Regions from separate parts of the Homo sapiens genome. Here all the other regions are linked to region 4. The links come from fine-mapping of genetic effects on gene expression. A gene starts in region 4. Each other region holds a variant in brackets. All regions are shown on one strand. Distances are between the middles of the regions. Region 1 has its middle 76 kb from the start of TBC1D3K. Region 2 has its middle 7.9 kb from the start of EPOP. Region 3 overlaps MRPL45 (mitochondrial ribosomal protein L45). Region 4 holds the start of MRPL45 (mitochondrial ribosomal protein L45).

The links. PIP is the estimated chance that this variant, and not a neighbour inherited with it, causes the effect.
Region 1: its variant is fine-mapped to the expression of MRPL45 in unexposed skin (GTEx, PIP above 0.99).
Region 2: its variant is fine-mapped to the expression of MRPL45 in transverse colon (GTEx, PIP 0.95).
Region 3: its variant is fine-mapped to the expression of MRPL45 in left ventricle (GTEx, PIP 0.97).

What each region holds. Positions count from the first base shown.
Region 1 is chr17:37,844,369-37,852,472 of GRCh38, forward strand. It overlaps the pseudogene YWHAEP7. Among named protein-coding and RNA genes, the nearest start is that of TBC1D3K, 76 kb to the right of the region's middle. RefSeq lists an enhancer at 1-324. The variant G/T (reference allele first, on the strand shown) is at 3,487.
Region 2 is chr17:38,678,791-38,686,894 of GRCh38, forward strand. No RefSeq gene overlaps it. Among named protein-coding and RNA genes, the nearest start is that of EPOP, 7.9 kb to the left of the region's middle. The variant A/C (reference allele first, on the strand shown) is at 4,455.
Region 3 is chr17:38,316,785-38,324,888 of GRCh38, forward strand. MRPL45 (mitochondrial ribosomal protein L45) reads left to right here. Exons shown (of 8, transcript NM_032351.6): 5 at 1,903-1,951; 6 at 3,834-3,983; 7 at 5,342-5,515; 8 at 5,725-6,427. The coding sequence ends at 5,811. It overlaps GPR179 (G protein-coupled receptor 179), which reads right to left. Exons shown (of 11, transcript NM_001004334.4): 11 at 7,787-8,104. Among named protein-coding and RNA genes, the nearest start is that of GPR179, 23 kb to the right of the region's middle. RefSeq lists an enhancer at 3,589-4,526. The variant G/C (reference allele first, on the strand shown) is at 4,229.
Region 4 is chr17:38,292,306-38,300,409 of GRCh38, forward strand. MRPL45 (mitochondrial ribosomal protein L45) reads left to right here and starts at 4,863. Exons shown (of 8, transcript NM_032351.6): 1 at 4,863-4,944; 2 at 6,144-6,321; 3 at 7,046-7,163. The coding sequence starts at 4,879. LOC105371760 (a long non-coding RNA gene) reads right to left here and starts at 3,300. Exons shown (of 3, transcript XR_934732.2): 1 at 3,189-3,300. RefSeq lists enhancers at 4,199-4,747, 4,748-5,298.

The DNA.
Region 1 (8,104 bases), 450 kb before region 4:
CTGCAGGGGCACAGTTGGGACAAGAACTCCGAACTCCAGGGCCCTCTACAGCTCAGGCTGTGCAAATGGGGCTGGTCCCGAAAGACGGTCCGGGCTGATGTGGGGACTGTCAGGCTGTGAGACGGGGCTCACTGGCCAGCCAGCCCAGAGGCAGCGTAGGCGCTCTGGCAGGAGACCCCCCCCAGGAAGTTTCGAAACCTTCAGCAGGATTTCAGAACCGTTCTAGACCCCATGCAGATTGTTTCTCTGTTAAAGAAGGCGCTTTAAGAAGCTGCCGAAGAGGCTCTGCCTTTGACCGTCAACAGGCATCTTTCCTCTAGTCCATCAGCCCACAAAGACAGGAAATCTGATGGGGGGAAAAACAAATAAAGTCATGCCAAAGTCGGGTGTCAGTAACCAGGGGGGCCGCCTGAGGCGTCGCATCCAACCCCCGCCCAGGTTTCCGCCCCGGGCCAGCAGTAGCCAGTCCCCGAGGGCCCATCTTCCAGCCCTGAAGCGGTAAACGCCTCACCTCTAGTGGCGAGTGCGAGGAACCGCACCCTAGCCCGCCTGACTGTCCAGCCCCGGGTGGTGCCCATCCTGCCTGTTGTTCCCTCTCAAACCAAATAAACCTCCCGACGTATGGACTCTGGCTGTCGTAGATGCAGACTCTCCTGCAATGCTTAACACCGTTTTGCTACCACGTGACGGCTGCAGACACTGTCCTCAAACTGCAGCCCCACAACGCAATTTTTGTACTTTCATCTGACATACCCGAAGGTGTCCTTTTTAAGTCTTGTTAATATTCATAATGACGTATAATCCAAAGTAAATGGAAATGTCATATTGTGATTGCAATGGAAACGGCATATTGCGACTGCATTGCCTTGGCGAGACTGTCGTCCTAACAGATTTTGAGGGGGCGGGGATGGTGGCTCACGCCTGTAATCTCAGCACTTTGGGAAGCCAAGTTGGGAGGTTCACTTGAAACCAGGAGTTCGAGCCCAGCCTGGCCAACATGGAGAAACCCGTCTGTACAAAAAAAACAGAAAACAAACAAAAAAAAACACAAAACCAATTAGCCGGGTGTGGTGGCACGCACCTGTAGTCCCAGCTGCATTAGAACTGAAGATGGCTCCCCATCTCATACACGGTGAAAGCCAGTCTTTATCAAGTTCTACATGTAGCTGGTGCAGTGTTTCACACCTGTAATCCCAGCACTCAGCACTTTGGGAGGCTGTGGTGGGTTTCACTTGAGCCTGGGAGATAGAGGCTGCAGTGAACCGAGATCACTGCATTCCAGCCTGGGTGACAGAGTGAGACCCTGTCTTAACAAAAGAGACTTGGAGGGGCTGGAGGGGAAGGTGGAAAGGCAGAGGAAAAGGCAACTGGAACTTAGGGTATGGTCTTGTTACTCTTCACCAGGAACCATTTGAGGTAGGCCCCCAAGTTACAGATGGGGAAACTGAGGCCCAGAGAGGTTAAAATACTTGTGCAGAATCACACAGCTGGCTGATGACAGAAGCACGACGCAAACTGAGGCCTCCCAAGACTTTCTGCACCAGGACCAGCCAGCCATGCTGTTACCTACTCATTCAACAAACAGCTGTGGAGTATTGACTCTAACGTCAGTCCCTGCCTGGGCCCCTGAGAGACAGTCATCAGGGAGATCATCTATGAAGACACAATAATGGTATGTTAGAAGGTGACCAGTAGCAAAAACTATGAGCATAAAGGAACTGGGTGGGCAGGCAAGGTTATGCTTAATAGGCAGGTCGGGCGGGCCTCAAGGTAAGTGTTGAGCTAAGACTTGGAGGGGCGGAAGGGAGCAATGGGGACACCTGGGGAAAAGGTTCTGAAGGCAGAGCCATGCTTGGCATGACTGAGGAAAAGCAAAGTGGCCAATGTGGCCAGAGCAGGATGGGGCAAGGGAAGAACAATGGATGGGGGCAGAGGATCGGACCCAAGTCATGTAGAAACTTTTTTTTTTTTTTGAGACAGGTTCTCATTGTATCTCCCAGGCTGGAGTGCAGTGGTGTGATCATGGCTCACTGCGGCCTTGACCTCCTGCTTTAGCCTCCTGAGTAGATGAGACTAGGCATGTGTCATCATGCCTGGCTATTCTTTTAATTTTTATTTCGCAGAGATGGGGTTTTGCTATGTTACCCAGGCTGGCCTTGAACTCCTGGGCTCGTGCAATCCCACCACAGCCTCCTAAAGTGCTGAGTGCTGGGATTACAGGCGTGAACCACTGCACCAGCTACATGTAGAACTTTATAAAGACTGTTGCTTTCACTATGCGTGAGATGGGAAGCCGTCTTGAGTTCTAAAAGACGCCCAGTAGAAGACAAACCTGTCATCTGGGGCAGGTCAGCAGGCCCAGGTTGAAGGTCCCTCTGTTGGGGGCCTGCCAGAGGGTCTGGCCTTCAAGGCCCAAATGGCATCCAGTATCCAGGGTGGCGGCAGCTCGGTCCCCACCAGATCCCTCTGCAGCATGACTCCGCTGAAGGTTCTGGCTGCCGACTCCCTTAGGAAGCCCCTGTGTGCTGGCCCAACTCTCCAGGCCTCCAGCTCATTCTCTGAACCACCTGACACCCCTTCCCATGCATTCCTTTTCTGCTTATGTTAACCAGAGTGGGATACTGTTGTTTGTGACAAACAGCCCCGCTTGGTACTCTGACGTGATCTATCGTCCAGGTCTCAACTCAAGTGCCCCTGTGAGGCCTGCCCTGCCAACCCCAGGCACTTCCACATCTCCCTGCTTTCTGTTCTTCAGGGCGTTCATCACCAAAAGCATCTTGTGTAGTTATTTCTTCCTTTCTCTCACCACTAACCTTCATGAGAGTAGGGGCCATACCCACCATTACCCCCAGTAACCCCAGGGCCTACACCAAGGCTGAGGGAACAGGAGCCTGCTAATGAGTATTTGTTGAACAAATGGGTAAAAGCTGCTGATGTGGACGTTTTATGAAAGGAGTCGAAGCCATGTGTCTAGAGCGTCAGTTCTGATGATGTTGGGTCCAAGCCCAGATGTGCGTGTGCAAGAGCCTCGGTTCAGCTCCAGAAGACTCCTGGGGTACAGATGAGAAAGGACCCCAGGGACCACTGGCTTATCCTGAACAGAAAAAGGGAGAGAGGAGGCCAGGCGCAGTGGCTCACGCCTATAATCCCAGCACTTTAAGAGGCCAAGACAGGAGAATAATTTGAGCCCAGGAGTTCAAGAAGAGCCTGGGCAACATATCGAGGTTGCATCTCTACAAAAAATTAAAAAAATAGAAATTAGCAAAGCCTGGTAGCACATGCCTGTGGTCCCAGCTACTCTGAAGGCTGAGGCGGGAGGATCACTTGAGCCTGGGAATTCAAGGCTGCAACGAGCTATGATCGCACCACTGCACTCCAGCCTGGGAGATAGAATGAGACGCCGTCTCAAAAACAGAAAAAAGAAACAGCCTTATTGAGGAATAACTGATATGCACAGAACTGCACGTGGTTAATGTGTACAATTTG[G/T]TAAGTCTGGACATTTGCAAACACCCATGATACTGTCACTACCCTGAGGGAATAGACATAGCCAACACCTCCCCAAGTTTCCTTGTGTCTCTTTGGTTTTGGTTTTGTTTTGGGTTTTCCCGTGTGTGGTAACAACACAACAAGAGACCTACCCACTTAACAGATTTTGAAATGTACAGCATTGTTATTCATAGGCCCTGTGTTGTACAGCAGATCTCTAGAACGTATTCCTCTAGCATAACTGAAACTTTACACCCATGGAAAAACTCCCCGTTTTGCCCACCCTCCAGCCCCTGCTAACCACTATTGTATACACTGCTTCTGTGAGTTTCACTGTTGTAGATACCTCATAAAAATGGAACCATGCGGCCGGGCGCGGTGGCTCACGCCTGTAATCCTAGCACTTTGTGATTGGGAGGCCGAGGTGGGCAGATCACGAGGTCAGGAGATCAAGACCATCTTGGCTAACACGATGAAACCCCATCTCTACTAAAAATACAAAAAATTAGCCGGACGTGGTGGCGGGCACCTGAAGTCCCAGCTACTCAAGAGGCTGAGGCAGGAGAATGGCGTGAACCGGGGAGGCGGAGCTTGCAGTGAGCCAAGATCGCGCCACTGCACTCCAGCCTGGGCGACAGAGCGAGACTCCGTCTCAAAAAAAGAAAAAAAGGAACCATGCAGTATTTGTCCTTCTGTGCCTGGCTTATTGCACTTGGCATAATGTCCTCCAGGTCCATCCATGTAGCTGCAAAAGGCAAGATTCCCTTCTTTTTTTGGGGTTGAATGTTATTGTCTTGTATGTCTCTACCACCATTTCTTTACCCATTAATCTGTAACTGACGCTTGAGTTGTCACAACACACTTTCTAGGCTGATCCATCAGTACATGGGTGATGCAAAATGGTAGCCTCCGGTCACAATAGCTGACATCTTTGATTCCAGCACTTTGGGAGACTGAAGCAGGTGGATCAGTTGAGCCCAGGAGTTCACGATCAGCCTGGGCAATACGGCAAAACCGCGTCTCTACGAAAAATACAAAAAACTAGCCGGGTATGGTGGCATCCACCTTTGGTACCAGCTACTCAGGAGGCTGAGGTAGGAGGACCGCTTGAGTCTGGGGGACAGAGGCTGCAGTGAGCCGATAGCGCACCACTGTACTCCAGCCTGGGCAACGGAGTGAGATCCTGTCTCAAAAATTACACTACAATACACTACACTACACTACACTACACTACACTACACTACAATACTAAAATAAAATAAAATAAAATAAAATAAAATAAAATAAATAAAATAAAATAATAAAATAAAATAAAATAAAATCGGTGGCCTCAACCCCAAGTGTGAGTGGCTTTTCAGTTTGGCTCTCCAGGGCTGCTCAGGAGCATTTCCTGTATCTCTTAATTTAGCTTCTCAGGAGAGAAATGACAGCACAAGTTATGACTCATCTCCTTAAGTCAAGTGTCAGTGATGTGGTGACATCACATGGTAAAACCATGGCTATGGGCAAGGCACACAAAGCCAGACGTGTCTTTCCCAGGAAGTCCCTGACCCAGTGGGAAAGGAAGAAGGGAGAGGTGGCAGCCAATGGAAAGAAGGGGCAGGAGCCAAGCAGGGCCACAGGACCCGAAGCAGAAATGATTCAGAAAGCAAAGACTAATAAACAGCCAATAGCAAGACACTTAAAAAAAAAAAAAGAGAGAAATGACCTACATGACCAAGAAAGGGTGAATAAATTTCACTATGGCCATCTGAAGGCTAGAAAGTTATGCAGCCATTGCTGTTTAATGATGAATAATGGTGTGGTATCTTGCAAATGTGTAGGGAACACAGAAGGATGAAAATTGAGTTTAGACTGAGTTCTTTTTCTTTTCTTTGAGACAAGGTCTTGCTCTGTTGCCCAGGCTGGAGTGCAGTGATGCAATCATAGCTTATTTCAAGCTTGAATTCCTTGGATTCAGGCGATCCTCCTGCCTCGGCGCCCCACCCAGAGTAGCTGGGACCACAAGTGTGCACCACCATGCCTGGCTGAGTTTTATTTTACTTTTTGTAAAGATGGGATCTCACTATGTTGCCCAAGCTGGTCTCAAATTCCTGGATTCAAACCATTCTCCCTCCACCATGAGCCACCGCCCTGGTGTGATCAGTGATGTGGAGCTTCTTTTCATGTGTGCTTGTCTTCTTTGGGGAAATGTCTAAGCCTTTTGCCCAGTTTTGAATTGGCTTCCTTGTTTTTGTAATTGTTGAGTTGTAGGAGTTTTTTTAATATGTTCTAGATATTAATCCCTCATTATACATACAATTTGCAAATATCTTCTCTCATTCTGTCAGTTGTCTTTTCACACTTTTTTTGGTCTTTTCTTTTGAGATAGGGTCTCACTCTGTCACCCATGTTGGAGTGCGGTGGTGTAATCATGGCTCACTGCAGCCTCGACCTCTTGGGCTCAAGTGGTCCTCCCACCTCAGCCTCCCAAGTAGCTGGGACTACAGGCACATGCCACCATGCCCAGCTAATTTTTTATTTTTTATTTTTTTTTATTTATAGAGATGGGGGTCTCCCTGTGTTGCCCAGGCTGGTCTCAAAACTCCTGGGAACAACTGATCTTCCCACCTTGGCATTCCAAAATGCTGGGATTTACAGGCATGAGCCACCACACCTGGCCTCTTGTCACTCTCTTCATAGTGTTTTTTGATGAAAGTTCTTCAACTGATGAAGATCAATTTATCTATTTTCTTGTGTTGCCTGTGCTTTGGGTGTTATATCCAAGAAAACATTGCTGAATCCCATGTTTTCAAGGGTTTCCCCTATGTTTTCTTCTAAGAGTTTCATGATTTTAGCTCCTATGTTTTTGATCCATTTTGAGTTAAATTTATATATGGTGTATGGTAAGAGTCCTACTTCATTCTTTTACATATACTCAGTTTTCTCAGCACTGTTTATTGAAAAGATTGTTTTTCCCCCCATTAAATGGTCTTGGCACATCTCTCTTTCCTTTCTTTCTTTTCTTTTCTCTGTCTATTTCCTCCCTCCCTCCCTTCCTTCCTTCTCTCTTTCCTTCTCTCTTTCTCTGTCTTTCTATCTCTCTCTCTCTCTCTCTCGTCTCACTTTGTCACCCGGGCTGAAGTACAGTGGAGTGATCTTGGCTCACTGCAACCTCAACTCTCTCTCTTTCTTTCTCAAGAGTCTCACTCTGTCACCCAGGCTGGAGTGCAGTGGAATAATCTCGGCTCACTGCAACTTGAACCTTCCAGCTTCAAGTGATTCTCGTGCCTCAGCTTCTCGAGTATCTAGGATTACAGGCATGCGCCGCCACGCCTGGCTAATTTTTGTATTTTTGGTAAAGACAAGGTTTTGCCATATTGGCCAGGGTGGTCTCAAACTCCTGACCACAAGTGATCCTCCTGCCTCAGCCTCCCAAAGTATTAGGATTACTGGTGTGAGCCACTGTGCCCAGCACATCTTGGCACCCTTTTCAAAACTCAACTGACCACTGACGTGAGGGTTTGTTTCTGGGCCCTCTATTTCACCCCATTGATCTAGATATCTGTCCTTATGCTAGTATCACAGTTTTTGGTTTTTCTTTTCCTTTTTTTTTTTTTTTGAAACAGAGTCTCACTCTGTCACCCAGGCTGGAATGCAGCGGCGTGATCTTGGCTCACTACAACCTCTGCCTCCTGGGTTCAAGTGACTCTCCTGCCTCAGCCTCCCGAGTAGCTGGAATTACAGGTGCACGCCACCATGCCCAGCTATTTTGTATTTGTAATAGAGATGGAGTTTCACCATGTTGGCCAGGCTGGTCTCGAACTCCTGACCTCAAGAGATGCACCCACCTGGGCCTCCCAAAGTGCTGGGATTACAGGTGTGAGCCACTGCACCCAGCCTGTTTTGTTTTTTTGAGACAGGAGTCTCACTGTTGCCCAGGTAGAGTGCAGTGGCATGATCTCAGCTCACTGAAAGCTCTGCCTCCCGGGTTCACGCCATTCTCCTGCCTCAGCCTCCTGACTAGCTGGGACTACAGGTGCCCACCACCACGCCTGGCAAATTTTTTTGTATTTTTAGTAGAAACGAGGTTTCACTGTGTTAGCCAGGATGGTCTCGATCTCCTGACCTTGTGATCCACCTGCCTTGGCCTCCCAAAGTGCTGGGATTACAGGCGTGAGCCACTACGCCCGGCCAAGTTCTCCAACTCTTCTTCTTTTTCACAATTGTTTTGATTATTCAGGGAGGGTGCCTTGAAATTCCCTATGAGGTTTAGAACGAGTTTTCTATTTCAGAAAGAAAATCAAACATGCCATTGGAATATTCAGAACGATTACATTGAATCTGTAGATTGCTTTGGATAGTCTTGACACATCATAATAATATTAAGTCTTCCTTCATAAACATAGGATGTCTTTCATTTATTTATGTCTTCTTTAATTACTTTCAGCAAGGTTTTATCATTTTCAGTGTGTGAGTCTTTCACCTTCTTGGATAAATTTATTGTAAAGTGCCTTATTCTTTTTGATGCTATTACAATGATTTTCTTTTCTCTGGACTGTTTATTGCTATCGTATATAAATGCAACTGATTTTTGCGCTTTGCTGAATTGGTTTATTTGCTCTAACAATTTTTTGTA
Region 2 (8,104 bases), 390 kb after region 4:
GCCTCAGCCTCCCGAGTACCTGGGATTACAGGCACCCGCCACCACGCCTGGCAAATTTTGTATTTTTAGTAGAGACGGGGTTTCTCCGTGTTGGTCAGGCTGGTCTTGAACTCCCGACCTCAGGTGATCCGCCTGCCTCAGCCTCCCAAAGTGCTGGGATTACAGGGATGAGCCACTGCGCCCGGCCTGTTCCTTTTTATTGCTGAGTAGTAGTCTGTTGTAGGGATATGCCACATTTTGTTTATCCAATCACATTTGGGTGTTTTTCACTTTTTGGCTATTATCTATAATGCTGTTATGAACATTTGCTATACACGTCTTTTGTGAATATATGTTTTTATTTCTCCTAAGTAGACATTTAAGGGTGGAATTGCTGGGTCATATGCTACATTTATGTTTAACCTTTTTTTTCTTTTTCTTTTTTTTTTGAGACAGGGTCTCACAGTCTCATTCAGGCTGGAGTGCAGTGGCACAGTCAGGGCTCACTGCAGCCTTGACCTCCTGGGCTCACGAGATCCTCTGCCTCAGCCTCCAGTGTGGCTGGGACCACAAGCCTGAGCCACCATGCCCAGCGAATTTCTTTTTAAATTTTTTTTGTAAGACAGGGTCTCGCTATATTCCCCAGGCTGGTCTCAAACTCCTCGGCTCAAGGGATTCTCCTGCCTCAGCCTCACAAAGGGCTGGGATTACAGGCATGAGCTACCATGCCCAGCTGTGTTTAATTCTTTTAAAAACTGCCAAGGTCGGGCATGGTAGCTCACACCTGTATTCCCAGCACTTTGGGAGGCCAAGGCAGGCTGATGGCTTGAGGCCAGGAGTTTGAGACCAGCCTGGGCAACATGGTGAAACTCCATCTCTACAAAATACAAAAATTAGCCGGGAGTGGTGGCATGTGCCTGTAGTCTCAGCTACTCAGAAGGCTGAGGGTGAGGAATTACTTGAGTCCAGCAGGTCAAGGCTGCAGTGAGCCACATTCATGCCATTCTGTGCCTGGGCGGCAGAGTGAGACCCTGTCTCAAAACAAAACAAAACTAAACTAAAAACTGCAAGGCTGTTTTCCAAACGGGCTATTCCATTTTACATTCCTATTAATATCCATGATATAGGCTGGGCACGGTGGCTCACGCCTGTAATCCCAGCACTTTGGGAGGCTGAGGTGGGCGGATCACCTGAGGTCAGGAGTTCGAGACTAGCCTGGCCATCATGGCGAAACCCCGTCTCTACTAAAAAAATTTAAAACTAGGCCGGGCGCAGTGGCTAACACCTGTAATCTCAGCACTTTGGAAGGCCAAGGCGAGCAGATCACAAGGTCAAAAGATCAAGACCATTTGGCCAACATGGTGAAACCCCATCTCTACTAAAAATACAAAAATTAGCTGTGCGTGGTGGCGGGTGCCTGCAATCCCAGCTACTAGGGAGGCTGAGGTAGGAGAATCGCTTGAACCCAGGAGGTGGAGGTTGCAGTAAGCCGAGATTGCGCCACATCACCCCAGTCTGGTGACAGAGCGAGACTCTGTCTGTAAATAAATAAATAAATAAATAAATAAATAAGCCAGGTGTGGTGGTGCACGCCTGTAATCCCAGCTGCCCAGATTCTCGGGAGGCTGAGACAAGAATCGCTTGAACCCAGGAGGCGGAGGTTGTGGTGAGCCAAGATTGCAGGACTGTACTCCAGCCTGAGTGACAGAACAAGACTCTGTCTCAAAAAATAAATAAATAAATAATCCATGGTATAAATGAGGACATTGAGGGAGATAAGTGACTTGCCCAAGTTACACTGCTAGCAAGTGGTAGAGCCAGAACCCAAACCCAGGTAGTTGAGTCCTAAGTTAGCTCTGGTAACCACAAGGCTACCCCACAACAATGAATCCAAGAGGGAAGCCATTTCTCCACCCTGCCACACCCAGCCACCATCATTTAACCTTTCTTGGTCCCAGAATTCCCTAAGTCAGCAGGGCTGCATCACCCCCTAGCATAAACCCACATGTTCCTCTACCTCCTCTGGGAATTTGCACCCAGGGTTAACAGCTTAAGTTCTGGGCTCAGATGGGTCAGTTCACATTCCAGACCCATCATTTTACTAGCTTTGTGACTTTGGGGCAATTACTTAACCTCAGGAAGCTTTAGTTTCCTTATTTGTAAAACAAGACTAGCATCTTTCCTCATGCAATTAAAAAGGTATTATATGATGGAAAATTTCAAACCTACACAAAAGTAAATAAACATAATTAACCTCTGAGTACCCAATATCCAGCTTCGACACTCACCAACTCATGGTCAGTTTTGTTTCATTCTTACCCACCCACTTCCTCACTTAAAAAAAAAAAAAATCAAATTGGCCAGTATGATGGCTCACACCTGTAATGCCAGCATTTTGGGAGGCCGAGGCTGGCAGATTGTTAGAGCCAGGAGTTTGAGACTAGCCTGGGCACCATGGCGAAACCCCATCTCTACCAAAACAAACAAAAACAACAACATGTAAATTAGCTAGTCCCAGCTACTCAGGTGACTGAGGTGGAAGGATCCCTTCAGCCTGGGAGGTTCAGGCTGCAGGGACCTGCAATCACCACTGCACTCCAGCCCAGGTGACAGAGCGAGACCCTGTCTCAAAAAACAACAATAACAACACAATTTTATTTAGGTATGATTTATGTAATAAAATGCACATTTTAAGTGTACAGTTCAAATGGTTTTGCCAAAGGAATATGCCCATGTTACCACCACAATTAAGATGTATTATAGCCGGGCGCGGTGGCTCACGCTTGTAATCCCAGCACTTTGGGAGGCCGAGGCGGGTGGATCATGAGGTCAGGAGATCGAGGCCACGGTGAAATCCCGTCTCTACTAAAAATACAAAAAATTAGCCGGGTGTGGTGGTGGGCACCTGTAGTCCCAGCTGCTCGGAGAGGCTGAGGCAGGAGAATGGCGTGAACCCGAGAGGCGGAGCTTGCAGTGAGCCGCGATTGCGCCACTGCACTCCAGCCTGGGCAACAGAGCGAGACTCCGTCTCAATTAAAAAAAAAAAAAAAGATATATTATAGAACAATGGCCAGGCACGGTGGCTCATGCCTGTAATCAATCCCAGCACTTTGGGAGGCCGAAGCAGGTGGATCACTTGAGGTCAGGAGTTCAAGACCAGCCTGGCCAACACGGTGAAACCCCATGTCTACTAAAAATACAAAAAAATTAGCTGGATGTGGTGGCTCGTGCCTGTAATTCCAGCTACTTGGGAGGCTGAGGTGGGAGAATAACTTGAACCCAGTAGGCAGAGATTGTAATGAGCTGAGATTGTGCCACTGCACTCCAGCCTGGGTGACAGAACAAGACTCCATCTAAAAAAAAAAAAAGAAAGAAAGAAAAATATAAGATATAGAACAAACCCCAAACCCCATATTATTTTGTTTTGCTTTGTTTGTTTTTTAGAGACAGGTCTTGCTCTGTTGCCCAGACTGGAGTGCAGTGATGCGACCTCGGCTCACTGCAACCTCTGGGGTTCAAGTGATTTTCATACCTTAGCCACCTGAGTAGCTGAGACTACAAACGTGTGCCATCACGCACGGCTAATTTTTGTATTTTTTTGTAGATATAGGGTTTCACTATGTTGCCCAGGCTGGTCTCAAACTCCTGGGCTCAAACAATCCTCCTGCCTTGGCCTCCCAAACTGTTGGGATTACAGGTGCGAGCCACTGTGCCCAACCTAGAACAAACCCCATGTTATTTTTAGGCAAATCCAAGACATCACATAATTTCATTCCTAAATATTTCAATACATATTTCTATAAGGACCCTTTAAAAGTAAACATAACCCCAACATTATTATCAAACCTAAAAAAAATTAACAATTGGCCGGGCACAGTGGCTTATGCCTGTAATCCCAGCACTTTGGGAGGCCAAGGCGGGTGGATCACCCAAGGTCAGGAGTTCGAGACTAGCCTGATCAATATGGTGAAACCCTGTCTCTATTAAAAATACAAAAAATAATCAGCCGGGCATGGTGGCATGCACCTGTAGTCCCAGAAACTCAGGAGACTGAGACGGAAGAATTGCTTGAACCTGGGAGGCACAGGTTGCAATGAGCTGAGGTCACACCACTGCACTCCAGCCTGGGTGACAGAGTGGGACTCCATGTCAAAAAAAAAAAAAAAAAGAATTAACAATCACACTTTAACTTCATCAAATAGCCAGTCAGTGTTCAAATTTCTAATTATCTTATAATATTTTTTCTTTACAATTTTTAGTTTATTTGAATTAGGAGCCAAAGAAGGATTTCAAGTGGTTAATATGTCTCTCTTTTTATCTATAAATTCCCCCTTTATCTCTCTCTGTCTCTCTTTTTTTTTTTCCTCTTTGCAATTTAGTCATTGGAGATACTACGATTGTCTTCTAGACTTCCCATAGTCTGGAATTTACTGGCTGCATTCCCACCGTGAGATTTAATCAAACAATATTTATGG[A/C]ACAATATTTATTAAGGACCTGCTATGTATAGTATTGTCAAATTTAGCACAGAGCTGGGTGCACTGGCTCACACCTGTAATCTCAGCACTTTGGAAGGCGAAGGCGGGTGATCACTTGAGGCCAGGAGTTTGAGTCCAGCCTGGCCTACATGATGAAACCCCATCTCTACTAAAAATACAAAAATTAGCCGGGTGTGGTGGCGAGTGCCTGTAATCCCAGCTTACAAAAGAGGAGGCTCTTGTAAGGGAGGCTGAGACAAGAGAATCACTTAAACCCTCGAGGCGGAAGTTGCAGAGAGCTGAGATAGTGCCACTGCACTCCAGCCTGGGAAATAGAGCAAAACTCCGTCTCAAAAAAAAAAAAAAAAAAAAAATTAGCACAAAATATACAGAACATATTTATTTATACTAAAAAACTTACTTATTGTTTATCTATAATTCAGATTTGACAGTGTTTTATCTGGCAACTCTATGTGCCAGGTGCTATTCTAGCACTGGGGACACAGCAGCAAGACAGACAACCCCCACCTCAAGGAGTTTGTATTCTAGTAGATTCGGGAAGCCAGCTAATGCACAGGCAAATAATATTCCTTCTGAAGATATTGTGAGGATTAAAGAAGAAACCTAGCCTAGGCGAGGTGGCTCATGCCTGTAATCCCAGCACTTTGAGAGACAAAGGAAAGAGGATCACTTGAGTCCAACAAGAGTTCAAGACCAGCCTGAGCAGCAACATAGCAAGACCCCATCTCTGCAAAAAGTGTAAAAATTAGCTGGGCATGGTGGTGCATGCCTGTGCCCCCAGCTACTTGGGAGGCTGGGACAGGAAGATCCCTTAATCCCAAAAGTTTGAGGATGCAGTGAGCTTTGGTCACACCACTGCACTCTAGCCTGGGTGACAGAGCAAGACCCTGTCTCAAAAAAAAAAAATAATTATTATCCATAGGTAAGAAAAAACATGGCCGGGCGCCGTGGATCACTCCTGTAATCTCAGCACTTTGGGAAGCCAAGGTGAGCAGATCATTTGAGGTCAGGAGTTCAAGACCAGCCTGGCCAACATGGTGAAACCCATCTCTACTAAAAATACAAAAATTAGCCGGGCTCGGTGGCGGGCACCTGTAATCCCAGCTACTCGGGAGGCTGAGGCAGGAGAATTGCTTGAACCCAGGAGGCGGAGGTTACAGTGAGCCGTGATCACGCCATTGCACTCCAGCATGGGTGACAGAGCAAGACTCCGTCTCGGGAAAAAAATAAAAAATAAAAAATGAGAAACTCACGTATTAATGCTTGGTGCATAGAAGTTCATGATCAATGTAAGTGCCTTTGGCAGTAGCTTAGGCTGCCTTTTCCCTTTCCTCCTTTCTTTCCTTGTCCCATCCCTCTCCGCATTCACTTAGGAACTATTCCAGACTTGCCTCCTCCTGCAGTACTTCCTCCATATGACCATGGTTAATTCATTCATTTATTTACCTCACAGTTACTGAGCACCCACCATGTAGCAAGCCCCAGGCCAGGCCCTGGGGACTCAGAGATGCTGGAGACGCAGTCTGGTGGGGGAGATGGACATTACAAGCTGATCTAAGAAGTAGCAATAGAGGGATGATCATGGTCCTGGAATCTTAGAGGAGGATGACCCTAGAGGAAGAGGAAGGAGGTCTTTTCAGAGAACGTAATCTTCCTCCTATGTCTACAGGCTGAACAGGAGTATACAAAGGAGGCAGGGCTGGGCATGGTGGCTCATGCCTGTAATCCCAGCACTTTGGGAGGCCAAGGCAGATGGATCACCTGAGGTCACCTCAGATCACCTGAGACCAGCCTGTCAACATGGTGAAACACCATCTTTACTAAAAATACAAAAATTAGCCATGTGTGGTGGTGCATGCCTGTAGTCCCAGCTATGCAGGAGGCTGAGGCAGGAGAATCACTTTGAACCTGGGAGGTGGGAGTTGCCGTGAGCCGAGATTGCACCACTGCAGTCCAGCCTGGGCGACAGAATGAGAGACTCCATCTCAACAAAAAGAAAAAGAAAAAAAAACAAAGGAGGCAGGAGAGAAGAGAGAAGAATTCCACCTGCAGAGGAATATGAGCAAGGAACCAAGGCAAGCAAGTGCCTGCCCCATGTGCTGCCAACTTCCAGCCATCAGCGTACCACCCCTCTGTTAAGTAGCAGGGTGCCCTGGCCTTGGCCTTTCTCATCCACCTTCCTAGAGTCATCTCATCTCCCTTGCACAGCCAATCACTCTCGCCATCAGGAGGTCTCTCCCATTAAAAAGCTAAATCTTCCTTGACCCCAGAGGCTACAGCCCTATCCCTTTCTTCCCTTCACAGCCAAGCTCCCCCGAGAGCTGTCTACGCACGTAGCCTTCCTTTTCTCACTTCCCACTTGCTCCCCAACCCGCTTCCATCTGCTTCCACCCTCGCCCGCCACCGGAATAGCTCTTGCTGAAGTCTCGGTGGCCTCCATCTCATCGAAACTGGCAGGCACTTGTCAGCCTCCCTGACCTCTCCGGGCAGCCCGCTTGGCTGGCCACTTCCTCCTCCGAGACATTTCCAGTCCCCTTCTTTCTGGACACCAAGCTCCCTTGCTGTCCTGCCTCTGGGGCTGCTTCCTCTTGCTTTTCAGTGCAGGCTCACTCTCCCCTTTTCAGCCCAAAATGTCGGGGCTCCTCAAGGCTTTGTCCAGAACTCTCTTCTCTCTCCAGACACTCTTCCCTGCTCACTTTGCAGTCAGCATTGGAGCCCCGGGGTTCAGCCTGGCCCTTTCCTCTCAGGTCTGGCCCAGACACCACACTGCCCACTCAGTCCACCTCGGACATTTCAAAAGCCCCTCAAACTCAGCCATCCCAAACCATCAGCACCCACTCCACCCCCTCTTCCCAGGAAACCTATCCTGAGGTGTGGCTCCCCCATCTATTCACTTCCACAGCCAGAAACCCAGTCCTCATCCCGACACCTCCAGCCCTCCAAGTCAATGCCTCAGCAAGACTCATCATACCCCACAGTCATCTTTCCAAAGCCACAAATCTGACTGTTACGCCCGTATTCAAAACCTTTTTTCTTTTCTTTTTGAGACAGGGTCTCACTCTGTCACCCAGGCTGGAGTGCAGTGGCACAGTCACAGCTCACTGTAGCCTCAACTTCCTGGGCTCAACTGATCCTCCCACCTCAGCCTCCCAAGTAGCTGGGACTACAGGTATGTGCCACCACACCCAGCTAATTTTTAAAATTTTTTGGGGGGCCAGGCCCGGTGGCTCACACCTGTAATCCCAACACTCTGGGAGGCTGAGGCGGGCGGATCACCTGAAGTTGGGAGTTCGAGACCAGCCTGACCAACATGGAGAAACCCCATCTCTACTAAAAATACAAAATTAGCCAGGTGTGGTGGCAGGTCCCTGTAATCCCAGCTACTCAGGAGGCTGAGGCAGGAGAATCTCTTGAACCTGGGAGGCGGAGTTGCCAGGAGCCAAGATCGTGCCATTGCACTCCAGCCTGGGCAACAAGGGCGAAACTCTGTCTCAAAAAAAAAAAGTTTTTGTAGAGTCGGGGTCTCACCATGTTGCCCAGTCTGGTCTTGGGCCAGCTGGTGAGCAAATGTGGTCCCAGCTACTTGAGAGGCCAAGGTGAAAGGATCGCTTGAGCCCAGGAGTTCGAGA
Region 3 (8,104 bases), 24 kb after region 4:
TTTACATTTTATCCAACATTTCCTTTTTTTTTGAGACGGAGTCTTGCTCTGTTGCCAGGCTGGAGTGCAGTGGCGCGATCTTGGCTCACTGCAACCTCCACCTCCCAGGTTCAAGCGATTCTCCTGCCTCAGCCTCCTGAATAGCTGAGACTCCAGGTGTGTGCCACTGTACCTGGCTAATTTTTGTATTTTTAGTAGGGACAGGGTTTCACCATGTTGGCCAGGATGGTCTTGATCTCCTGACCTCGTGATCTGCCCACCTTGGCCTCCCAAAGTGCTGGGATTACAGGCATGAGCCACCGCACCCGGCCCATAAATCCACCATTTCTAAATGTTTATAGTAGAAGTAGTATTACATTATTGCAAAATAGTAAGTGAACTCATGGAAAATGGAGTTTATTTCCACTGAAGACTTCTATGCCAGGATAGTGGGGAGGAAGAGTTCACTCAGAGGTGCCAGTGATGGTCATCATGGTAGTTGTCACCACAGCTCAGTCTGTTCCTACAGTAGAGGAAATGACTTGGAATCTTTCCTATTAGGAATAGAGATGAAAGGGAAGCAGATAGACATGTTAGAACTAATCCCTTACCCATTCTGGGCTTAGAGAGCAAGATTTTTCAAAGGGGACAAAGAGTTAAACTGCTCATAGTAAACTGGGGAAAAGTCGTGTGTATCTGAAAGAAGCTAATCTATGGCCTTAGGTTTGAGACTCATCAGCTAGGAACCCTCCTAAAATCTTGTATCTATAGGAGCTAGGGTTTGTTGTCTGTTTTGTGTTTTTTTTGTTTTGTTTTGTTTTTTTTTGAGACGGAATCTCGCTCTGTCACTCAGGCTAGAGTGCAGTGGCGTGATCTCAGCTCACCGCAACCTCCGCCTCCCGGGTTCATGCCATTCTCCTGCCTTAGCCTCCTGAGTAGCTGGGACTACAGGCGCCTGCTACTACTCTCGGCTAATTTTTTTTGTATTTTTAGTAGAGATGGGGTTTCACCTTGTTAGCCATGACGGTCTCGATCTCCTGACCTCATGATCCACCCGCCTCGGCCTCCCAAAATGCTGGGATTACAGGCATGAGCCACCATGCCCGGCTGTTTTGTGTTTTTTTAACCATTACTATATAGAGTCAGCATGACTCGGCCACTCTGGCAGCAACAAGATAAAGGAGAGAAAATAGACCAGGAAAGACATGATTATCTTTGACTAGGTTCAAAGATGAGCGTGTAAGATATAAGGCTAAAAACATGGTGAAACCCCATCTCTACTAAAAATACAAAAATTAGGTGGGCGTCATGACGTGCACTTGTAGTCCCAGCTACTCAGGAGGCTGAGGCAGGAGAACCGCTTGAACCTGGGAGGTGGAGGTTGCAGTGAGCCGAGATCGCGCCACTGCACTCCAGCCTGGCGACAGAGCGAGACTCTGTCTCAAAAAAAAAAAAAAAAAAAAAAAGATATAAGGCCAAGCCAGATGGTACTGATGCTGGCTCAGAGGCAAGAGGAGATAAAACAAGCTTTTGATTGTTACTTGTGTTGAACTTTGTTGCTCATACCAGCTTAGAGCAAAAATCAGGTCCTATGTCCCAGTGAGGGTACCCATCTTAAGGATATATGGTAATTTTAGAGAAATTGCCTCCTACTCCTTAGATTTAAACATAATTTTTTTTAAATTTATTTTTTATTTGTAATATAATTTTATTCTGCTACTAGATCTTAGGGTTTTCTGGTAAATCACATTATTGTTCGTGTTTGTGCCCCTAGAATTTAGCATATTTTATACCTGGCTTATACTAGATGTGCCGAAAACATTTGTAAAAATGAATTGTTTTCCATTTTCAGGACCATTTTCAGTCTTCATACAGGGTATTATAAGAGCAATAGTCAATGATATTTATTGCTTTCTTTTCTAGCTCAGACCATGACCGGCTTCATACCTTGGTAACTGAACACTGTTTTCCAGTAAGTTCTCATCCTCCTTAGAACTGTGGGGTGACTGAGTGGGCAGATTCTAGATGGCGTCTCTGGTTTTTCTTTTCTTTTCTTTTCTTTTCTTTTTTTTTTTTTTTTTGAGACAGAGTTTCACTCTTGTTGCCCAGGCTGGAGTGCAATGGTGCGATCTTGGCTCACCGCAACCTCCACCTCCCAGGTTCAAGCGATTCTCCTGCCTCATCCTCCCAAGTAGCTGGGATTACAGGCATGCGCCACCATGCCCAGCTAATTTTTTATTTATTTATTTATTTATTTATTTATTTATTTATTTATTTATTTATTTATTTTGAGATGGAGTCTCGCTCTGTCGCCCAGGATGGAGTGCAGTGGCGCTATCTCGGCTCACTGCAAGCTCCGCCTCCCGGGTTCACGCCATTCTCCTGCCTCAGCCTCTTGAGTAGCTGGGACTACAGGCACCCGCCAGCACACCCGGCTAATTTTTTGTATTTTTAGTAGAGACGGGGTTTCACTGTGTTAGCCAGGATGGTCTCGATCTTCTGACCTCGTGATCCGGCCACCTCGGCTTCCCAAAGTGCTGGGATTACAGGTGTGAGCTACCGCACCTGGCCTAATTTTGTATTTTTAGTAGAGACGGGGTTTCTCCCGTTGGTCAGGCTGGTCTCCAACTCCCGACCTCAGGTGATCCGCCCGCCTCGGCCTCCCAAAGTGCTGGGATTACAGGCATGAACCCCACTGCGCCCTGCCTGGTTTTTCTTAAGAAGGATCAGTTTTGAGAGTGTAGGAAGTTTAAGGCACAGGCTGAAGGTTCATTGCTTGTAGCTGAATGACAATGTCTTGACACAGACTCTGGTAAGGGCCCTGGCAAATGAAAGAAGTCCCTCAACAAGCAGTAATGACACTGCAGGAGCATAGGTCCTGAGGCTTGGATATGGGCCATACTAGGCCACATCTCCACACGCCTGCACTATCATGAGGGATTTAACAAGAGTTCATGAGGCTTATATTGAGTGGTAACAGGAGTGTGAAGCACTTGGAGGGATCCCCAAGGATAAGAACTTTGTGGTTCAGTTAGAGATCCAAGAATAAGAACTTGGGGCCGGGTGCGGTGGCTCACGCCTGTAACCCCAGCGCTTTGGGAGGCCGAGGCGGGCGGATCACGAGGTCAGGAGATCAAGACCATCCTGGCTAACATGGTGAAACCCCGTCTCTACTGAAAATACAGAAAAATTAGCCGGGCGTGGTGGCGGGCGCCAGTAGTCCCAGCTACTCGGGAAGCTGAGGCAAGAGAATGGCGTGAACCTGGGAGGCGGAGCTTGCAGTGAGCCGAGACCGCGCCACTGTGCTCTAGCCTGGGCAACAGAGCAAGATTGCCGTCTCAAAAATAAAAATAAATAAAAAAAGAACTTGGGTTTCTATCAGTAGAACTTCAGTTTCTATCAGTCTTCCCCAGTCCTAGCAGTTTAGCCCTTATAGCCCTGTAAAATTCCCACTTTTCATTGTTAATATGTGAGTGGGGAAAAAAAATATATATGCAGTCAACACAAGTACATGCAATAATTGCCACATTATGAAAGTGTATGGGAGGGATGTTGGTGTATTGGGCATGCTGGCAGTTTGGAATGTGGTTTTTGTTGATTTAAAGAAGGGTCCTCAAAGAGGAAGGTGGGTCTGAAGTTGTGATATAGATGAAGAGAGAGTTGTCAGGTAAGCTTGACCAATAGCTTAATCAAAACTTGAGAAGGTGCAAGAGAAAATAGGCACAAGAGAGCATGTGGTGGGAAACGTGCTGCCTGTTGGCTGTAGTCTTGCAGGAAGTGAGAGCAGTGTGGCAGCACCAGCTTCCTTAAAGGGAGGGAAAAATGCAGTTGAACTTGTTCTCCTTTGCCCTTAGGACATGACTTGGGACATCAAATATAAGACCGTCCGCTGGAGCTTTGTGGAATCTTTAGAGCCCTCTCATGTTGTTCAAGTTCGCTGTTCAAGTATGATGAACCAGGGCAACGTGTACGGCCAGATCACCGTACGCATGCACACCCGGCAGGTAGAGGCACTCGTCTGCCTTCCTCCCAGCTTTTTTTCACTCTGAGCTTGGGCACCTCCCTCTGGAGTGCTGGGTATGGTTGCCCAGGACTGTAGACAGTAATAAAAGGTACACTGTGATCTGTCTTCCTTGCTGTGCCGCTGTCCCCTTCCCACTGTTACATGTTGGCTCTACTAAGATGTGTGAGGATATTCTCTCCCACTCTTCCTGATTTTTTTTTTTCCCCCAAGACAGGGTCTCATTCT[G/C]TCACCCAGGCTGGAGTGCAGTGATGTGATTGTGGCTCACTGCAGCCTCAACCTCCTGGGCTCAAGCAATCCTCCCACCTCAGCCTCCAAGTAGCTGGGACTACAGGGGCACGCAACCATGCCTGGCTAATTTTAGTATTTTTTGTAGAGACCAGTCTTGTCATTTTGCCCAAGCTGGTCTCAGACTCCTGAGCTCAAGTGATCCACCCACCTCAGCCTCCCAAAGTGCTGGGACTATAGGCATGAGCCATTGTGCCCCACTCCTTCTTGGTCTTGACTTCCCCGTCTCTCTGCCCCCTGTCAAAGAACTTGTAAGAATAAAGTGTCAGTAGTTGATCAGATAGTCCTAGATTCAGAATTCCGAGATAACTTTTTTTCTACCCATTAAGATTTTTTCTGGCTGGGCACAGTAACTCATGCCTGTAATCCCAGCACTTTGGGAGGCCACGGCAGGCAGATCACAAGGTCAGGAGTTCAAGACCAGCCTGGCCAACATGGCAAAACACTGTGTACACTACAAATAGAAAAATTGGCCGGGCATCATGGTGTGTGCCCGTAGTCCCACCTACTCAGGAGGCTGAGGCAGGAGAATCGCTTGAACCTGGAAGGCGGAGGTTGCAGTGAGACGATACCGTACCACTGCACTCCAGCCTGGGCAACAGCAAGACTCCGTCTCCAAAAAAAAAAAATTTAAAAAGATTTTTCTTATGGTGGTTTCAAAAATGGTTGTGTGGCAGGCTGGGTGCAGTGGCTCACGCCTGTAATCCCAGCACTTTGAGAGGCCGAAGCGGGTGGATCACCTGAGGTCAGGAGTTGGACAGCTGGGTCAACATGGTGACACCCCATCTCTACTAAAAAAGACAAAAAAAATCATCCAGGAGTGGTGGCACGTGCCTGTAATCCCAGCTACTTGGGAGGCTGAGGCAGGAGAATTGCTTGAACCCAGGAGGTAGAGGTTGCAGTGAGCTGAGATCATGCCACTGCACTCCAGCCAGGGCAACAGAGTGAGACTCTGTCTCAAAAAAAAAAAAAAGGTTGTATGGCAATAAAACAAACAACTCACACTCACACACCAAAAAAACTAAGAGGCCAGATTTGCTTTTATCCTTGCAGACTCTGGCCATCTATGACCGGTTTGGCCGGTTGATGTATGGACAGGAAGATGTACCCAAGGATGTCCTGGAGTATGTTGTATTCGAAAAGCAGTTGACAAACCCCTATGGAAGCTGGAGAATGCATACCAAGATCGTTCCCCCATGGGCACCCCCTAAGCAGCCCATCCTTAAGGTAAGGTGGCTTGCATGGTTTAAGAGAGCTGAGGCACTACTCGTGGTCTCCTAAGCCACTCTGTCGGGCTCCACCTAGTGGCGAGAGGGGGTGATGCACCACCCAGGAAGGGAAGGCCGGGTGGGTGGGTGGGTGGGAGCAAGGGATGAAGCTCTTCTGGGTCAGCCATGGGCTTGGTTGGTGGGTAACCTGGCGTCCTACTCTTTCAGACGGTGATGATCCCTGGCCCTCAGCTGAAACCAGAAGAAGAATATGAAGAGGCACAAGGAGAGGCCCAGAAGCCTCAGCTAGCCTGATGACAAAAATGACTTCTAGGGTGAAGCCTGGGTGATGAGGCTGCTGGAAGCTTTGAAGTCTCCCATTCCCCTCATGCTATAAAAAGAACTACCTTTGTTCTCTCCCATCCTGCTCAGGTCTTTTCAGCAGTCTCATCATCAGCAACCATGACTGATGACTGGGCCCTAGCAGGTGGCAGGTATAACATGGCCATGGACACTCTTCTTTTTTAAATTTTATGTCTAGCTTCTGAGTCTAGATGAAAGACAGTATGTTTCAGAGAACATTGGATATCAGTTTTTCCCACAGCAGGGACTGTGAGAGACAACCAGCAGCATCCTCTTTGTAATCACAGGGCAGGGATCAGAGTTTGAAATGAAATGTTGTCAGGGTGTTGGAAAAATTTTGGTGAGTTCTGCACATTTCCCCTGGTTCAGGCTGGGCATGGACCAGCCTTCAGATGGCAGAAGTGGAAGATGAGCCTACTTGTGAGCGATGTGACTTTAAGGAAATGAAGACTGGGGAAGAATAATTAGTGTTTATAAGACATTTAAGAGGCCCTTTTTCATATACTGACTCACTGATGAATCAGCATTTGCATTTTATGGAAAAATATAAATCCAAAGAAATAATTTATCCCTTAGCCTTTGATTGTGTTCTTAATTATTAGCTGTATCAGGAAGTGTTGGGGGAGGCAGGGGCCATGGAGAGGTTGTTACATTTGGAAAATTTATCTGCAGTACTTGGTTCCCTGATTTCTAGCACCATTTGGAGATGGGGACTGTTCTTTCCAGCCCAGTATTGAAGGTGAGTGTACAAAAGTATGAACCTGTGCAGAGGAAAATAGGCCAGCCCCTCCTTGTTCCTTAGCTCCAGATGGGCTGTTAAAAGGGTGTGGGACCTCACATGCCCATGTGTCCTAGGCCATCTGAGTGTGACAAGAGAAATCACTTTGTTTTTGTTTTATTTTGTTTTTTAGAGATGGAGTCTTGCTCTGTCAGGCCCAGGCTGGAGTGCAGTGGCACGATCTCGGCTCACTGCAAGCTCCACCTCCTGGATTCAAGCTATTCTCCTGCCTCAGCTTCCCATGTAGCTGGGACTACAGGCATGTGCCACCATGCCTGGCTGATTTTTGAATTTTTTTTTTAGTAGAGATGGGGTTTCACTATGTGTTGGCCAGGCTGGTCTCGAACTCCTGTCCTCAGGTGATCTGCCTGCCTCATCCTCCCAAAGTGCTGGGATTACAGGTGTGAGTCACCATGCCTGGCCTGTTAAGTGTTAACTATGGAAACAAAGGTATGTATATTTAGGGAAGAGACAGCCCTGGTGTCTCTCATCAACCACTCTCATCATGCTGCTTAGTCCCAACCTTTTTGGCTTAAAGTGTACATCACTTTAATTACTGCCCAAGTGAGGTTTGGTCACATCCTATTTGCCTGAGCCCTGGATTAAGGCAAAATGAGAAGGGACGTGCTTTTGAGCAGGACCCACTGCCAGGGAGTATGGAGGAAGGGGAAATAATCCTTGCAGGGTAAGGAAGCAAAGAAATGAAAAAAAAAAAAAAAGCACACTTAGTGGGTAAATGATACATTGATTCCTTTGAATATGTAAAAATAGTGCTTCAAATAAGCTGTTTCATCCCACTCCCCTGGATATCTCAGGGTTCTCTAGATAATCCTAAATAGGAGCTAAGCAGTAGCTGCCACCAGAGAGCCAGAGGATGAGTGCAATTTCCATTTCCCCTTGGGATTAAATCCAGCTGAGCAAATGGCCTCCAGATGTGAGGGGCTGGCTAGAAGGACCAGGCAGAGACCATCTGCAGTGTCAGCACTGACCTGGGCACTAGCAGAGCATTAGCCAGATAACCCAAAGTCCCAAGACTGCAGTGCACCTTGAGCTTTGGAGCAGGCATTGTTCTTTCCTTATCTATCTTCTGTTACTGTTTAAAAATGTTAAAAAAAGATAATCATGAATAAGCTAGAGCCAACTGCAATGTCAAGAAAAAGCATTCTTTATTTCCGCCCCGCCCCCCCCACCCCATGGTTTATTTCACAAGAGTGTGTTTGGCGGCAACTTTGCTGTTTCCAGCTAGACCAGACCCAATGGGATTGTTTTGGGGTGCACAGCAAAATCCACTTTAGCTCAGAAGCCGTAAGGCTAACTAGCCAGAGCCCAGAACAACAACACACTTCAATTACTGCTCCAAAAGCCCAGAATAAGGGCCCTAGGTAAGAGAATGAGGACATCTGGTCCCCAAAGGAGAGTAGGTTACTCCATTCCTCTGTTCCCTTTTGGAAATGGAGTACTTTTTTA
Region 4 (8,104 bases):
CCTGGCCTCAAGCAATCCGCCTGCCTCAGCCTCCAAAAGTGCTGGGATTAGAGGTGTGAGCCACCACACCCAGCCCTCTTCGGGCTCCATTTAGAAATTTCAATACGACAACAAGGGATTCCAGTAACCCACTTCACTGGGAAAAACAGGAAATCAACTTTTCCTTCTGCCTCATTATATTTCTTTTTCTTTTCTTTTCTTTTTTTTTTTTTTTGAGATGGAGTGTCGCTTTTTCGCCCAGGCTGGAGTGCAGTGGCCAGATCTCTGCTCACTTCAAGCTCCGCCTCCTGGGTTCATGCCATTCTCCTGCCTCAGCCTCCTGAGTAGCTGGGACTACAGGCGCCTGCCACCGCGCCCGACTAATTTTTTGTATTTTCAGTAGAGATGGGGTTTCCGTGTTAGCCAGGATGGTCTCGATCTCCTGACCTCGTGATTCACCCGCCTCGGCCTCCCAAAGTGCTGGGATTACAGGCGTGAGCCACCGCGCCCGGCCTGCCCCATCATATTTCAACTGGAATTCTTCACATCTGCTTATTGTATAAATAAATATTGGAGTGTCTACTATGTGCAAGAGTGTTCTTTGCCAAGACTGAGCCCCTAACAATCGATTCCTTCCTCTACTTGCACAATGAGTTCTCTTCTCTTGCTCCCATCATCGTGACAAGATCTTTTTATCTTGCTTTTTCTGAAATGTGAATTACTAAGATTGTAGGATTAAGAAATACCCTTTTTGGCTGGGCACGGTGGCTCATGCCTGTAATCCCAGCACTTTAGGAAGATGAGGCAGGTGGATCACCTGAGGTCAGGAGTTCGACACCAGCCTGACCAACACGGTGAAACCCCATCTTTACTAAAAATAGAAAAAATTAGCCAGGCTTGGTGGCGGGCACCTGTAATCCCAGCTACTTCGGAGGCTGAGGTAGGAGAATCACTTGAACCTGGAGGCCGACGTTGCAGTGAGCCGAGATCGTCCCACTGTACGCCAGCCTGGGCAACAAAGTGAAACTTCATCTCAAAAAAAAAAAGAAAGAAAAGAAATATCCTTTTGGTGTTACTTCTCTAACAGACAGCTCCCAATTTTCTTCTTTTTTTTTTTTTTTTTTTTTTTTGGGGGGGATTGAGTTTTGCTCTTGTTGCCCAGGCTAGAGTGCAATGGCATGATCTCGGCTCACCGCAACCTCCACCTCCCGGGTTCAAGCAATTCTCCTGCCTCAGCCTTCCGAAGAGCTGGGATTACAGGCGCCCGCTACCACGCCCAGCTAATTTTTTGTATTTTTAGTAGAGACGGGGTTTCTCCATGTTGGTCAGGCTGGTCTTGAGCTCCTGACCTCAGGTGATCTGCCTGCCTCAGCCTCCCGAAGTGCTGGGATTACACGCGTGAGCCACTGTGCCTGGCCAGCTCCCAATTTTCCATGAAGCTGATGAGGTAGGAAGATATGAATTTTCCAAAACAGTAGCTCATCAAACAACAACAAAACTAACTTATAGCTCATCTCTAAGCAATTAAATGATATTGACTCCCCTATCATTATTTCATCCAGGCTGATATGGAACAAGTTTGTATTAACTGAGAAACTGATCAGAGGGTGGGCAGAGATGATCTGGGATGTGTTGGCTACTGTGTGAGGCTAACATAAAACTCAATGGTGGAGGAAGTAATCTAAGATAAATTATATTAATGTTCTGCATTAATCAATAATCTTGGCCAGGCGCGGTGGCTCACGCCTGTAATCCCAGAACTCTGGGAGGCCGAGGCAGATGGATCACCTGAGGTCAGGAATTAGAGATCAGCCTGGCGATGTGGTGAAACCCTATCTCTACTAAAAATACAAAAATTAGCCAGGCATAGTGGCAGGCACCTGTAATCCCAGCTACTCGGGGGACTGAGGCAGGAGAATCGCTTGAACCCAGGGGGCAGAGGTCGCAGTGAACTGAGATCGAGCTATTGCACTCCAGCCTGGATGACAGAGTGAAACTGCATCTGAAAAAAAACAAAAAAACAAACAAAAAAAACACCTCTCATCCATGGAGTAAACTTTCCTCACTTTGGTTGGGAATACCAGTAAAAATAATTCATGTTTTGGCCGGGCACGGTGGCTCACCCCTGTAATCCCAGCAATTTGAGAGGCCGAGGTGGGCGGATCACCTGAGGTCAGGAGTTTGAGACCATCCCGGCCAACATGGTGAAACCCCATCTCTACTAAAAATACAAAAAATTAGCTGGGCGTGGTGGTGGGCACCTGTAATCCCAGTTACTTGGGAGGCTGAGGCAGGAGAATCACTTGAACCCGAGAGATGGAGGTTGCAGCGAGCCAAGATTGCGCTATCGCATTCCATCCTGGCTGACGAGTGAAAACTGTCTCAAGAGAAAAAAAAAATCATGTTTTATTTTCTAGGGATTAGAGTAGGTGGACAGGAGTCTGTTAAATAATCAGATATAGCTTATTTAAATGCTTAATAACATATATTCTATTTTTTTCTTTTTTCTTGTTTCCCTATGCTTCTATAGGCACTGAATAGCTCTGTTGCCCAGGCTGGAGTGCAGTGGTGGGATCTTGGCTTACTGCAACCTCTGCCTCCTGGACTTAAGCCATCCTCCCACCTCAGCCTCCCCAGTAGCTGGGGCCACCATGCCCAGCTATTTTTTTTTTTTTTTTTTTTTGAGACGGAGTCTTGCTCTGTCGCTCAGGCTGGAGTTCAGTGGCACAATCTCGGCTCACTGCAAGCTCCGCCTCCCAGGTTCACTCCATTCTCCTGTCTCAGCCTCTGGAGTAGCTGGGACTACAGGCGTCTGCCACCATGCCCGGCTAATTTTTTTTGTATTTTTAGTAGAGACGGGGTTTCACCATGTTAGCCAGGATGGTCTCAATCTCCTGACCTCGTGATTCGCCTGCCTCGGCCTCCCAAAGTGCAGGGATTACAGGTGTGAGCCACCGCACCCGGCCTAATTTTTTAATTTTTTTGTAGAGATAGGGTTTTGCCATATTGGGCAGGCTGGTCTTGAACTCCTGGACTCAAGGGATCTAACCCACTTCCGCCTCTCAAAGTGCTGGGATTACAAGTGTGAGCCACCCCACACGACCCCACATACTCTTCAACACATACATACAGCACTAATTTCATGTCACTATTAATGTGTCGTGCTATAGGTTCAATACTGTGGCTGGAACTTGTAGGGAAATACTTACCACATAAGAATGTACGATATAGCTGCGAAGTCAAGCTTTAAAAAACGCCTGTAATCCTTGCACTTTGGGAGGCCGAGGTGGGCGGATTGCCGGAGCTCAGGAGTTGGAGACCAGCCTGGGCAACACGGTGAAACCTCGTCTCTACTAAACTAGAAAAAATTAGCCGGGCATGGCAGCGTGCACCTGTAATCCCAGTTACTCTGGCGGCTGAGGCAGGAGAATCGCTTGAACCTGGGAGGCAGAGGTTGCAGTGAGCCGAGATTGTGCCACCGCACTCCAGCCTGGGTGACAGAGTGAGACTCCGTCTCCAAAAACAACAACAACACGTGATCTCCAAACCCAAAAGTAATCTTTCAGTTCTTCTGATAGTCCCCAGCACTTTGCTTCGACCTTTGTAGCAATTCTACTTCAGCCTGAAATTTCTTGTATGTACAGCCTGTAGCTCCTAACTTATTGCAAAATATTGTAGATGAGAACTCTGTAAGCTGTAATTGGCAGAATAATAACCAACGGCTAAGTGTGGAAAGTGTCTGCCTTTCAGCAACGTTTACACTACTGAATTTACCAGGGTGATCCCAACATCACGAATCCTTTAACAACTTAACATGAAGCAGCACGTAGCAGTTACCTGCATGGGTTCTGGAATTAGACTGCTTAGATTCAAATCTCGGTTCTGCCAGTTATCATCTATCTAACCTTAAGTAAATTACGTAATTGCTCTGTGACTCCTTTCCGAAATGACAAATCACAAATGTTTTTGTCAATTCACGTGTCTTCTGCTTTAGTAAACATAGTAGAAGACAGTAGTCAATCTCTTTTTTTGTTTTTTTTTGAGACAAAGTCTTTCTCTGTCACCGACGCTGGAGTGCAGTGGCGGGATCTCGGATCACTGCAGCCTCCGCCTCCTGTGTTCGAGGGATTCTCCTGCCTTAGCCTCCCAAGTAGCTCAGACTACAGCCGCCTGCCACCAAGCCCGGCGCTCTCTTGCTGGCGCATGACAACCGTGCGTTCCACCCTACGACTAATTTTTTTTTTTTTTTTTTAGACGGAGTCTAGCTCTGGCTGGAGTCAGTGGCGCGATCTCGGCTCACTGCAACCTCTGCCTCCTGGGTTCAAGCGATTCTCCTGCCTCAGCCTTACAAGCAGCTGGGACTACAGGCGTGTGCCACCACGCCCGGCTAATTTTTGTATTTTTAGTAGAGACGGGGTTTCGTCATTTTGGCCAGGCTGGTCTCGAACTCCTGACTTCAGGTGATCCACCGGTCTCGGCCTCCCAAAGTGCTGGGATTACAGGCGTGAGCCACCGCGCCCGGCCTCCTTTTCCTTTTTTAACTAATGGAATAAACGGCAATGTGCCAAGCATACAGCAATGCCCATTCCCCGGCCTTCAGAAAGCCTCGGGCGCAGGCGCAGCTCGCGTTCAAGCGCTCTCTCGCTGGCGGGGGACAACAGTTCGTTCCACCCTACGCCCAACGTTGTCTCCCTGCGCACGCGCGGCCGTACTCCGCCCTCCTTACTCCACCCTCCCCCACTCCCGCGAGCACGTGCGCGTCCTCGCTGCTCACATTTCGGCGGAGGGCGCGCTCCCTGGAAAATTCCACTCCTGTGCTAGCTCCACCCTATGCGGCTTTTCTCCTACCCGACGCTCTTCACTCTCAGCTCCCTTCCCGGCGGCCTTTGCGGGAACAAGATGGCAGCCCCCATACCTCAAGGGTTCTCTTGTTTATCGAGGTTTTTGGGCTGGTGGTCTCGGCAGGTGGGTAGGGACGGGGCCGATAGGACCCTAGGGGCTACAGGAGAGGACAGAGTCGAGGGAAATACTCTCTGTGCAATTGTCCTTGGTGAGCTGGGACAATACGAGTCATACCTAGGCCGGGGAAGAGGCTTAGGTGGACAGGACCTAGCTGCGGAGCTCAGTGGTCGAATGGGGATAGCCTAGACAGGGCCATGAGAGCGAGTGAATTAACGGATATTAAGTTTTTCCGGATTGGTTTGGGTCTGTCTGGCGAGGAGATATTAAAGGAGAGACAAGTAATGGGTTGGAAGGTGGACTCCCTAATCTTCGATTCTTATAAGTGAACTACGTTGAAGAGTAGCCGAAAATGAGGGCGTCCCATATTGTCACTGCCCCGTCTGAGCAAACCTCATGATCAGAGAGAAAAGATCTCCTGATCTTTCGAGGGTTTATTGGTCAGTTGGGTGCTAAAACGACAGAATAAAGTTTACAGCGAGACTCCCGATAGGATGAGCAAAATATCACGAGTACATATGGAGCAGATGCCTACAAGAGGACTTTGCTTATGCTTTAAGCATAGCATTCAGGGCCCGGCGCGGTGGTTCACACTTGTAATCCCAGCACTTTGAAAGTCCGAGGCAGAAGGATGGCTTGAGCCCAGGAGTTCGAAATGAGCCTGGGCAACATATAAGACCTGGTCTTTACAAAAAAATTTTAAAATTAGCCAGATGCGATGGCGCACTCCTTAGTCCCAGCTACTTGGGAGGCTGCGGTGGGAGGATAGCTAGAGCCCAGGAGGTCAAGGCTGCAGTGAACCGTGATCGTGCCATCGCACTCTAGGCTAGCGATCTGCCTCAAAAAATAATAAAGAATAGTATTCTGCCCATTTCAGTATTGAGTTGGTGTTTCCCCATCACCATCAGTTTTTGAAACTTGCTTTGATCAACTCAGTATCCGTAGGAGTTAGCATAGTCCTGTACTGTGGGAAGTTCTAAAGGAAAGCCTTTAGTAAATGTGATGTTAATAAAGGTTGCTAACTGTCTTCTATTTAGAGACACCCATAAGTATTAAGGTCCTAATGCATTTTTTCCCTGTGATATTGTTTTATAATTGTTCCTGAAGCATTCTTTGGATATTCCCTCTCTATAGTGCTTTGCTTAGAGTTTGTAAAAGATAGTAGATCTTTTTTCTAGGTTCCTAACCTTTCCTTTACCTTCCAGCCAGTTCTGGTGACTCAGTCCGCAGCTATAGTTCCAGTAAGAACTAAAAAACGTTTCACACCTCCTATTTATCAACCTAAATTTAAAACAGAAAAGGAGTTTATGCAACATGCCCGGAAAGCAGGATTGGTTATTCCTCCAGAAAAATCGGACCGTTCCATACATCTGGCCTGTACAGGTGAGGTATTTCTGGGACCCTGACCTGGGATCCTTCTGTCAGAGATCTTCTGGAACTTGGGATGACTTGGACTATGATTGATAATATTTAATTAAGCACGAAGTCAGTTCAACCTCAATAATGATTAACCTTATATACACTATATATCATGAAGTTGTTCTTTGAACTTACTTTCACACTGTCCCTAGAAGGCAAGAGTGAAATTTCTCCATTTTGTGGAAGTAGAAACTGAGGCTCTGAGAGAAGACTTAAATCTTTCTGGCTTTTTTTGTTTTGTTTTGTTTTGTTTTTTGAGACAGAGTCTCGTTCTGTCGCCCAGTGGCACAATCTGGGCTCACTGCAACCTCTGCCCCCCTGGGTTCAAGCGATTCTCCTACCTCAGCCTTCCAAGTAGCTGGGATTACAGGCACCTGCCACCATGCCCGGCTAATTTTTGTATTTTTAGTAGAGATGGGGTTTCACCATCTTGGCCAGGCTGGTCTTGAATTCCTGACTTTGTGATCCGCCCGCCTCGGCCTCCCAAAGTACTGGGATTACAGGTGTGAGCCACTGTGCCCGGCCTTGTTTTGTTTTTTTCTAGTGTAACATAGTTCTCTCTACATGGAAGTCTGTTTCATTAGTCTACTTCATATCCACAATCCTTCCCAATTTTACATTACTTCAATTTTATGAGTTTTTCTCAATCTTTCAACACTTTCTTAATTTTTTTCTTCCTTTATTACAGCTGGTATATTTGATGCCTATGTTCCTCCTGAGGGTGATGCACGCATATCATCTCTTTCAAAGGAGGGACTGATAGAGAGAACTGAACGAATGAAGAAGACTATGGCATCACAAGTGTCGTAGGTGTCTGAGACAATTGGGTATTGGTATTAGAATAACAATTTTTTGTTGCTACTTTATCCCAAAGAGACCTTTTTGGGTTAATTGGGTTGGGTGTCATTCTCTTAATAACATGATGGTATTTTCTCCTTTGTACTAGAGTCTGTATTTAATGCAGAATAATGTGGGCTTCCTGATTCTCAGCATCCCTGCCTTTATTGGTAATTTTTGTCATATCAGTTAGGGAGTTGACTTTGGAGTGTATAGGATCCTTTTTTAATCATATATTTAATTTTTTTTTTTTTGAGATGGAGTTTCGCTCTTGTTGCCCAGACTAGAATGCAATGGCACGATCTTGGCTCACCGCAACCTCCGCCTCCTGGATTCAAATGATCCTCCTGCCTCAGCCTCCTGAGTAGCTGGGATTACAGGCATGTGCCACCATGCCCGGCTAATTTTGTATTTTTAGTAGAGATGTGGTTTCTCCATGTTGGTCTGTTGGTCAGGCTGGTCTTGAACTCCTGACCTCAGGAGGCCCGCCTTGGCCTCCCAAAGTGCTGGGATTACAGGTGAGAGCCACCACGCCCAGCCCTTTATTTATTTATTTATTTATTTATTTTGAGACGGAGTTTCACTCTTAACTCACTGCAACCTCTGCCTCCCGGGTTCAAGAGATTCTCCTGCCTCAGCCTCCCGAGTAGCTGGACTACAGACGCATGCCACCACGCCCAGCTAATTTTTGTATTTTTAGTAAAGACGGGGTTTCACCATGTTGGCCAAGATGGTCTCGATCTCTTGACCTCGTGATCCACCCACCTCAGCCTCCTGAAGTGCTGGGATTACAGGCGTGAGCCACTGCGCCCAGCCGACCTGGCTAATTTTTAAAAGAAATTTTTGTAGAGACGGGTTATCACTATGTTGCCCAGGCTGGTCTCGAACTCCTGGGCTCAAGCAGTCCTCC